Regions from separate parts of the Homo sapiens genome. Here region 2 is linked to region 1. The links come from fine-mapping of genetic effects on gene expression. Tissue or cell type: transverse colon. Region 1 holds a variant in brackets; the other region holds the start of a gene. All regions are shown on one strand. Distances are from middle to middle.

Region 1 (5,317 bases):
AGGCTGGTCTCAAACTCCTGGCCTCAGGTGCTCCTCCTGCCTCGGCCTCCTGAAGTGCTGGGATTACAGGCATGAGCCACGGAGCTCAGCCCGCCTCTATCTTAAGCCTCTTCCTTGAGGCTCCAACCTGGGTCTCTGCTTCAGAATTCAACATCAAGAAATGAATAAAACAAGGGCCCAGCCTGAGCAAAATAGTGAGACCCTATTCCTACAAAAAATAAAAATAGTTTTTAAAACAGAAATGAATAAAACAAAAAGACACAAACAAAACAAAGCCTCTTTGAGGACAAGAGCCCCACTAAGCTGGGACAAATCTGATAAAACCCCAGAGCCTAGGTCTGGGCTGCTGCTGAACTCTCCTGACATTATGGTCTGCCAGGGACAGGTGTCTTTGCACATCTACGGTGACTAGTCCACTCACTCTACACCCCGTCCTGGTTGTGGCAAAGAGACTATACGTTGTCCACCTAGGTCAGGGTTTCTCAACCTCAGCACTACTGATATTTTGGATGAGGAGCCCCCAAGATGTTGTCGGGGAGGCTGTCTTGTGCATTGTAGGGTGTTCAACAGCATCTCTGGCCTCCACCCACTAAATGCCAGTAGCAATGTCCCCATTTGTGACAAAAATATCTCCAGACATTGACAAATGTCCTCTGAAGGCAACATCATCCCCATTTGAAAAACACTGCTCTAGCTCCATTCCCTCCCTTCTTTTTTAGTAATAAGACTTTTGATTTTCAGCTGGCACACAGTCAACAGGAAAAAAAACACCAGGCAGCTAGCTGCAAGACCACCCTCGCAATGAGGCAGCAGTACAACTTCCAGAAAGTGTCTCTAAAGGGAAAGTGTGCATCCTATACCCCTTCTTGCTTCCCAAGGGTGAGAACACTTATGCGGGGGCTGCAGCTGTATCACCTCATGGGTCCAGAAATCAAAGTCAAGGGGTAAGATGGCAGAGCAGTAAGAGGGAAGGAGGCTGGGTCCCAGATGACCATGGAGTGCCATGATAGAGATGGCCTCTACCACCAGACTTAATTCATGCAAGATAAATGAATTTGTGTCACTGCTGTCTTGGCCTAACTCCCCCGGAGCTGAGGTTTAGCCTCTGATGAACTCTTCTGACACCATGGCCTCTTGTCAGTCACAGTCAAATCTAATCTTAAGTAACATACAAGATATAACTCAGCAGTGCTTGTGGCTTTAATTATCCACTGTCTGGATGCCCGTTGACTGTCAATTTTTTGCCTCAGCTCAATTCTAGTAGTTCACCAGACCCCTCCACATGGCCACCATCCTCTCCCCATCCCGCCCTCCCCAGGGGCTTCCTATCTCAAAAAGGTACTCCCACTTCCTTAGAACTCTGTGAGTCATCTCTGAATTCCCTCTCTCCCATTCCATCTCTCCCACATTCACAATGCCCCAAAGTCCCCAGTTCTCCTCCACTCTACCCCTAATGCCACTGTTGCAGTTCAGGCCCTCACCACTCCTCCCCTGGTTCACTGTCACTACCTCCTAACTACCCTCCCTGCCTCCAGTCTCCACCCCACACCCCCACCTGCCGCCCCCCACCTCCTGAAACGACCCCCTCCCCAGACTCCCTTGGTCTCTAGGGCAAAGTCCAACCTTTCTGGGTGACCAGCATCCCCGCTCCCCTCTCCCACCTCACCTCCCAGTCCCCCACCTCTTACTTATAGCCAATAGGAGACTACACAAAGAGCTGACCATGGCTCCAGTAACCCGGTAACCCACTGTGACTCTGTTCCCTCTGTCTCCAATGTCCTTCCCTGCCACCTCTGTTCTGTAAACTCTAACTCCTCCTTTGAGGCCCAGGCAAAGAAACCTCCTCCTCAGGTTTCGACTGATTCCCTCAGCAAACACAGCCCATTGATGTCTGCTCTCTGCTGCCACAGAATTTGCCTGTGGGTCTAACACAGAGCTTGTCCCATTGCATTTATGAGTTGGAGTGCCTGTCTCCCTGACTGGCAGTGAGCAACCTGAGGAAAGATCCCATTTTATTGTACTTGGAATCCACGGCTCCTAATGTAATGTTGGCATGGAGTAGGTGCCCAATACACCATATGATTATCCATTTACTAAGTCCTTGCTATGTGGTGGGCCCTGAGCAAATGCTTTATCTAAATTATCTTATTTCATCCTCAAAATCGCCTTGCCAGGAGTGATTGTCTCCCCCTAAGAGATGAGACTACAATTCCAAGAGGCTGAGCAGCCACTGCAGGTGCCACAGCTTATGCACAGCAGTGTCAGAGACAGATTCTCCATCTGCCACACCCATCTCTCCCTTGGGATCTTGCCTCCCCTGCTGCCAACTCCAGACATGGTCTTCAGGGAAACACTGACCCCCAGAACTAACCAGATCTGGGTGTAGAAAAAGCTCTTTATCCTGTTATTCGGTTAACTTGGGATTTCTTAAAAAGGAAGTTTTAATGGGAAACCAAGAGAAAGCCACACACACACACACACACACACACACACACACACACACACACACACATTTTAACAAAACAAATGGGCAATACCAGGTCCCCTCTGAGCTTTTGTTTTTTTTTTTTGAGATGGCAGTGGCACGATCTCAGCTGACTGCAACCTCCGCCTCCCAGGTTTAAGCGATCCTCCCACTTCGGCCTGCATCACCATGCCCTGCTAATTTTTTTTTGTAGAGACAGGATTTTGCCATGTTGCTCAGGCTGGTCTCAAGCCTTGAAGATTGGCCTCAAGACATCTGCCCACCTCAGCCTCCCAAAGTGCTGGAATTACACATATGAGCCACCACCTCCCCTGGCCGCTCTGAGCTGTTATTTCCTCCTCTCTAAAACCAGCAGGTGAGACTAGACGTCTCAAAGATCCTTATCAGCCCCAATATCCTGTGATTCCATGGATGGAATAGTTTCTCAGACTGGACGGTGGGCTGACGAATTGTGTTGGGGAGGGCAGTCCCCTAGGGACACAGGCTTCATGGGGAGGAAGGCCAAAAGCAGACCAGCCCCACACACCCTGCTCTTTAAGACTCCACTTTAGAGGTCCAAAGGGAGAAAGGGGCC[G/A]GGCACGGTGGCTGACGCCTATAATCCCAGCACTCTGGGAGGCCGAGGCAGGTGGATCACCTGAGGTCCGGAATTCGAAACCAACGTGGCCAACACGGTGAAACCCCGTCTCTACTAAAAATACAAAATTAGCTGGTCGTGGTGGTGGGTGCCTGTAGTCCCAGCTACTCGGGAGGCTGAGGCAGGAGAATTGCTTGAACCCAGGAGGAGGAGGAGGTTGCAGTGAGCCAAGATCGTGCCACTGCACTCCAGCCTGGCTCCAGCCTGGGCCACAGAGCAAGACCGGGTCTCAAATAAATAAATAAATAAATAAAAAGGGAGGCCAGGCGTGGTGGCTCACACCTGTAATCCCAGCACTTTGGGAGACCAAGGCAGGCAGATCACGAGGTCAGGAGATCTAGACCATCCTGGGGCGGGCGCCCGTAGTCCCAGCTACTCGGGAGGCTGAGGCAGAAGAATGGCATGAACTCGGGAGGCGGAGCTTGCAGTGAGCCGAGATTGTGCCACTGCACTCCAGCCTGGGTGACAGAGCGAGACTCCATCTCAAAAAAAAACAAAAAACAAAAGAGAGAAAGGGATGGCTGGCCTAATAGCCTTCTGGACCCTCTGATAATCCTCCCCAGGGTGAGTGTGAGTTTGAAGCCAGATAGGCCTACGGCTTGGAGTCCAGATCTGCAAGCTGCCTGCTGGATGTTGAAGGGTCCTGTCTCCTCCCTAGGCCTCAATGTAGGCATCTTCCCTTCTGTGGGCCACCCCCTCTGGTCCCAAGCCCTGCCTGGCCCCTCCTCCCATAAAATTATGACAACAGAGAGTGGAGGCTTGTGGGCAAGTTCCTGAGGAGGCTCAAACTCAGCTGTAACCCTTGGAGCCACCGTCATTTCCCCTCTCCCGCCTCCCCAGCTAGGAGGCTGAGAAGTTTCATCACAGCTGAGCTGTTGTCCTTATAAGGGAAAGTCCTCCGAAGCCTCTCCTTTGGGCCATAGCCAGCTGGTGGAGAACCTGCCCAGGCCTTGGGGTATCCTCCCAGTGCCAGGAAAGGTGGGGGTGCCCCAAGGACTCTGGGGTGAGCCTCCATCTGAAATCACAGACCCTCCAGACAAATAGCAGAAAGCAGTCAGTTGTGGCCCCAGGCCAAAACCCCAGGAGGGTCAAATCCCAGGTCCTGACACTAACTTTGGTCCCCTACCTAAGTTGCTTAAGCCTCAGTTTCTTAACCTGTAAAATGGAGTGAAATTACATCTTCCTTGTGAGGCCACTGTGGTGACTGTGAGAGGTTAACAGGCCTGGCAAACAGTAGGTGCTCTGTGAGGCCAGGCTGCTGGAGTTTATTAAGCATTTTCTTTTCTTTTTTTTTTTTTTTTTTTTGAGACATAGTCTCACTCTGTTGCCTCCTGAGTAGCTGAGACTACAGGCGCCTGCCACCACTCCTGGCTAATTTTGTATTTTTAGTAGAGACGGAGTTTTCCCGTGTTGGCCAGGCTGGTCTCGAACTCCTGACCTCAGGTGATCCACCCACCTCAGCCTCCCAAAGTGCTGGGATTATAGGTGTGAGCCACTGCACCTGGCTACCCCTGGGGTTTGAATCCAGGTGTGTCTGCCTCCAAACCTGAAGTCATGTTTTCTCTACTTACATCCTGCTGTTTCCTCTAAGAATTTTGTTAAATTATGTCAACAGGGAGGAATTTCCATCATCACCTCTCCACCATCCATGTTCCATCACAGAGCCTCCTTGGTCACAGAAACCTCTGTGGAGTGAGTTTGTCTTTTCTGACACCCCTTTTGTCTGGGACATGAGGGTAGGGGTGGGGAGGCAGGAAGACAAGACAGGGAGAAGGGAACAAAACACAGTGACTCCCGAGACAGGATGCCGCCAGGGCCTAGGCAGGGGTAGAGGAAGGGGCAATCTGGTTGCCCCTCCCCCTGTCCTGGGTCCTGTCTGATGATAGCCACCTTGTGATTTGTGAAACCCTCTACTGGGCTGGACACGGTGGCTCACGCATGTAATCCCAAGCACTTTGGTAGGCCAAGGCGGGCAGATCACTCATGGTCAGAAGTTCGAGACCAGCCTGGCCAACATGGTGAAACTCCATCTCTACTAAAAATACAAAAATTAGCCAGGCGTGGTAGCGCACGCCTGTAGTCCCAGCTCTCAGGAGGCTGAGGCAGGAGAATTGCTTGAACCCAGGAGGCGGAGGTTGCCATGAGCTGAGATCACACCACTGCACTCCAGCCTGGATGACAGACCGAGACTCCGTCTT
Region 2 (5,171 bases), 37 kb before region 1:
TTTAAAAATTAGCCAGGTGTGGTGGCACATGCCTGTAGTCCCGGCTACTCAAGAAGCTAAGGCAAGAGGCTTGCTTGAGCCCAGGAGTTTGAGGCTGCCAATGAGCTATAATTGCACCTCTGCACTCCAGCCTGGGCAACAGAGTGAGACCCTGTCTCTAAAAAGAAAACAAAAACAGGCTGGGTGCAGTGGCTCACACCTGTAATCCCAGCTCTTTGGGAGGCCGAGGTGGATGGATCACGAGGTCAGGAGATCAAGACCATCCTCGCCAACATGGTGAAACCCCGTCTCTACTAAAGATACAAAAATTAATTGGGCATGGTGGCACACACCTGTAGTCCCAGCTACTCGGAAGGCTGAGGCAGGAGAATTGCTTCAACCTGGGAGCTGGAGGTTGCAGTGAGCCGAGATCATGCCAGTGCACTCCAGCCTAGTGACAGAGCGAGACTCCATCTCAAAAAAAAAAAAAGAAAACAGAAACAAAAAAATCTCTGCTTGTATGAGTGACACCAACAATCCCCAGACGAATAGATGCCTGTCCCCTCTCCCAAAGTGCTCACACATACTAGCACAGAGACAAATATTTGCTGGCCCTTTCCATAGTCACTGCAGGGCAAGTGACCCCATAGCCTGCATGTTTGGTCCAGTATGAATGTCTGAACCCAGCCCCTTTGTGTATCCAGGGACAGGTGACGAGTGTCTTGGTAGGGAAGGCTAAGATGCACTGAGGTGAGAGACAGGCCTGCCATGCAGTTTGTTTTTCTAGATAAATTCCACACAGTCTTCTCCAGATGAGAAAGAGGATCTTGAGCTTTCTGGGGCCTCATGGATACAACCTGTGGATCTCAGAGTTGCTACCCTGGGGGGCAATCACACAGTCCTGGGTTCAACTCTGGCTTAACCACTTCCTAGCTGTGTTAGGCAGTTTCCTCATCTGCAAAACAGGAGTGCGAGCTTCCCTACAAGGTTAATATCATGATTAGAAATGAGATATGAAAACCCCCTGGCACAGTGTCTGGCACATAATGACCACACCGCCACCACCACCACCATCATCATCACTATTATTCCTCCAAGGCAAAGGGTCAAATTCTGGTAGCCAAAGAGAGCTGCCACTTCAGATGTGAGCTTACAGAGGCCTGGGTTCTAGTACCTTCCCTGCCACTTTCCAGCAGCAGGATCCTGGGCTAGTCACATCCCCCTTGTAGGTCTGTTTCTTCCATTGTAAAACTGGGGGAGGGTGAAGAAAGAGATCTGTATAGGTCCCTTCCTGTCTGGCACCCTCTATCTTATGTGCAGCTTAGGGGGATTGGCCTGGTTTGTATTGGCAAACAGCCAGGAGTTCCAATGGGAAGCCAGCAGACACTGCATAGGGTCAGGCCAGAGAAGGTTAAGTTAGAATGAAATCAAGTCCAGTCTCATCTCTTCCATCCACCTCCCATCCGGCACCCTCTTTCTGGCCACATCCAATACCCACTGAGCTACCTGAGCCTTTGCCCATGCTGGGTCTTTGTCCAGAATTCTCTGCCACACACCCCAATGCTCCATTGGTACACATTCTTCGCAGGCCCACTCAAGTGATCCTCCGCCCCAGGCAGAACCATGTACCTAATCTTGATTGAGCATTCCCACCCCCAACACATCCCTCAGCTGAGTAGATGCAGTGTGCCAGCATTTTGGACACTATAGGTCTCAAAGGAATCCAGTGAGCTGCACTATGCGCTTTTGAGGGAAAGCCCCGGGATTCAGCTGTCAGGATTCAGCCAGGGCTGCAGGATCAAGGACTCACAGTGCAGACACCGACACAATCTTTCTCTCCCCTCTCCCAGACGGTGCAGCCAAAGCTGCCCCAGGCCAGCTGATGCCCACACAGACGCTGCTGCCCGGCCTAGAGGCCCTGGCACTGGGCGCACTCCTTGAGGGAGGTTCGGAGGTGCCCTCATTCCACCTGTGGCCAGTCAGGCTCCTCTCCTCTGAGTGCGTGCCCCATCTGATGCGGTCTCCACTCGCTATCCAGCCCCAGCATTCCGGGTGAGCTGGGCCCTTCAGCACTTCTACCACTCAATGGCTGTGTGACCTTGAACAACTCATTTGAACACCCTGTGCCTCAGTTTCTCATCTGCGAAATGAAGATAACATAATGTCCTACCCATATGGCCGCAGCGAAGATCAAATGACGTGCCTCTCCTGGGTCAAGGCCTGGCACACAAAGTACAGCACGCAGTCAAGGATCGCTATTACCTTTATTATTTGTAGCTAACCTCTCAGCCGCTGCTCCCCGCTCACCTGGCGGGTGTGGTCCCCGAGTCCCAGACGCACTGGCAAGGTCCCCTCGGCCCAGTGCGCGGACCGGTAACCATTCCGCTCGGAGCCACACAGACGCCCCACACGGAGGTGGCCGTTCGGAGGGCGCCAACCTCACCCCTGGCACTCCCCAAACGGATGCGGGGGTCCTCTCGGCCTCGGCCCGCCCCCCTCCCTCCTCCAGGCAGACTCACGGCCGTCGGTCTCCCACGCCAGCTCCTCCTGCATCCTGCCGCTCCGCAGCCCCTGCGCGCGCTGGTGCCCGGGCGCGAGGCGCGCGTCCGCCGGGGCGGGGCCCGGGGAGCCGAGAGGACGGGGCGGTCGCTCCTCCAGACTCCACGCCCCGCCTGCTAGGAGCGCAGCTGCCCCGGCCACCCCAGTCCCGGACCAGGACGCAGGTCCCTCCTCCTGCTCTCTTAACCTGCCCACCCCTCCGCGCCCGAGGCCGGCGGGTCGGGGCCACGCCGAGTTCCGCAGGTGTCCCTGACCCAGTCTCCTCCCCGGGAGTTCGCCCAGCCTCCCCGGCCCTGGAGATAGATGCGCACAAGGCATCTGGCAGGCTCATCCTCCTCGCGCCTCTCGGGACTCGGGGAGGAGGGCTGAGCCTTGGGCCCGCCGCCTCAGGCGCAGAAAGTCAAACCCCAAAGATGTGAGCTGGCGTTTAAGGGACCACAACCTCAGCAGGTCTGCAAGCATATGAAGAGATGGTCGGATTTATCAGTGTTCAGAAAGATTTATCAGGCCCATAAAGGGACATGTAGGAGGATGTTGGTTGCTGTGTTGCTGTGGTTGCTGGGAGTTGGAGACAATCTAAGCGCCCTTTCTTGTAAGAGCAGATGGATAAACTGTGCAGCACTCAAAGCAAGGGACCCGCTGTATTCGTGGCAATATGGATTTAAACACCTAGTGCTAGGCAGAAAAAGTAAATAACCAAACCAAATAAGACCTAGGAAACAATATCAATAAAAATATTACAAATGCATTTACATCAAACAACACAGACTTGCAAAGACACATAGAAACAAAAAGATACACATTAAATACACCAGAATGGGTTGCACTTCAGACCCTTGGGGGATGTCCATGTCCTTTTTGCCTTAAAGGCATTTACAGCTTCTTTGAATTTAGGGATAATGGGGTCTCAGGCATCTCTATCCCAAGGCAAGAAGCCAGCAAAGCCATGATAGGTGTAGTTACTACTACTTTGGGGATCAAAGGAGGAAGAGCATCTTTCAGTCATTAGTCCTTAGAATATAGTTCAAGAAGGCTTCCTGAAGAAGGAGGTATTTGGAATGGCCTTTGAAAAATAACATAATGATAACAGCTAACAATTAATGAGCCCTGAGCCAACCCCTCAAAATGGTCTCAAAATAACAATTCCAACATAATAATCAAAGATATGATTTTTTTTTTTCTGAGACAGAGTCTCACTCTTTCGCCCAGGCTGGAGTACAGTGGTATGATCTCGGCTCACTGCAACCTCTGCCTCCTGGGTTCAAGCAGTTCTCCTGCCTCAGCCTCCCATGTAGCTAGGATTACAGGCACTCGCCCCCACACCTGGATAATTTTGTATTTTTAGTAGAGATGGGGTTTCACTATGTTGGTCAGGCTGGTGTTGAACTCCTGACCTCAGGTGATCCACCTACCTTGGCCTCCCAAAGTGTTGGGATTACAGGTGTGAGCCACTGCGCCGCACCCCCCCCTTTTTGTTTTTGTTTTTTTTTTAAGACAGAGTCTCACTGTGTTGCCCAAGCTGGAGTGCAGTAGCGTAATCTCAGCTCACTGCAACCTCTGCCTCCCAGGTTCAAGCGATTCTCATGCCTAAACCTCCCAAGTAGCTGGGACTACAGGTGTGTGCCACCACACGCGGCTGATTTTTGTATTTTTAGTAGAGACGGGGGTTTCACCATGTTGGCCAGGCTGGCCTCGAACTCCTGACCTCAGGTGATCTACCCACCTAGGTCTCCCAAAGTGCTTGGCCACCACGCCTAGCCAAAGATATTATTCCTGAAAACAGTTTAAATGTTTTTTGTAAAGCTTTTGTCACATGTACATCCCACTAGGGGCATAGTGTCACGTTACTGTTTTAGTCACTTGGAATAGTTCTTTATGTGGTTATGCCACCAACTCAACATGCATGGTTTATTTATTTTGTTTTGCTTTTGTTTTTTGATATTTTTAAATGTTAATTTTGCTTTACAATTATGTAAAGTATTTACATGTTTCAAAGTTAAGTCTCTGAAGGTTGTCATAGTCAGCTGTGGTGATGGATGAAGAGGGCACCACTGGCTTCCAGCCTGCTGTCACTCTCCTTCACTCCACATCCAGCTTTTCTTCCCAGCTGCTGAGCCTGCTGACCAACAGTGGCCCCAGGCCATCGCGGACTTGGCTGCAGACCCAGGGCATTAGTACCACCCATAGACCTCCCCAGGAGCTTTCCCTTGTGGTTCCATTTTAGCAGCTGGACATACTTGGTTTCTCAGATGACTGACTAAGGACTCCTCTGATCCCCAACTCCCCTTCTGGTCCTTCCGCAACTGTGTAAGGCAAATTACTATCACAGATCCCTAATCCCAGGGGTCTCCAACCCCCAGGCTTCAGACTAGTACTGGTCTATGGCCTGTTAGGAACTGGGCCACACAGCAGGAGGTGAGCAGCAGGAGAGCGAGCATTACCACCTGAGCTCCGCATCCTGAAAGATCAGTGGTGGCATTAGATTCTCATAGAAGGGTGAACCCTATTGTGAACTGTGCATGTGAGGAATCTAGGTTGCACACTTCTTTTTTTTTTTTTTGAGATGGAGTTTTGCTCTTGTTGCCCAGGCTGGAGTGCAATGGCTCACTGCAATCTCTGCCTCCCGGGTTCAA

Direction of the effects. Alleles are on the strand shown, and positions count from the first base shown. SD is a standard deviation of normalised expression in the study named.
In carriers of allele G in region 1, the expression in transverse colon of the gene that starts at base 2,561 in region 2 tends to be higher than with A alone (small effect, 0.22 SD a copy in GTEx).

Evidence for each region. PIP is the estimated chance that this variant, and not a neighbour inherited with it, causes the effect.
Region 2: ANKDD1A starts here. The variant in region 1 is fine-mapped to the expression of ANKDD1A in transverse colon (GTEx, PIP above 0.99).

Annotation. Positions count from the first base shown.
Region 1 is chr15:64,871,853-64,877,169 of GRCh38, reverse strand. No RefSeq gene overlaps it. Among named protein-coding and RNA genes, the nearest start is that of PLEKHO2, 33 kb to the right of the region's middle. RefSeq lists enhancers at 4,015-4,064, 4,085-4,174. The variant G/A (reference allele first, on the strand shown) is at 3,060.
Region 2 is chr15:64,909,292-64,914,462 of GRCh38, reverse strand. It overlaps ANKDD1A (ankyrin repeat and death domain containing 1A), which reads right to left and starts at 2,561. Exons shown (of 15, transcript NM_182703.6): 1 at 2,499-2,561. The coding sequence starts at 2,532. RefSeq lists an enhancer at 1,806-2,349 and silencers at 2,536-2,715, 2,916-2,965, 3,039-3,333.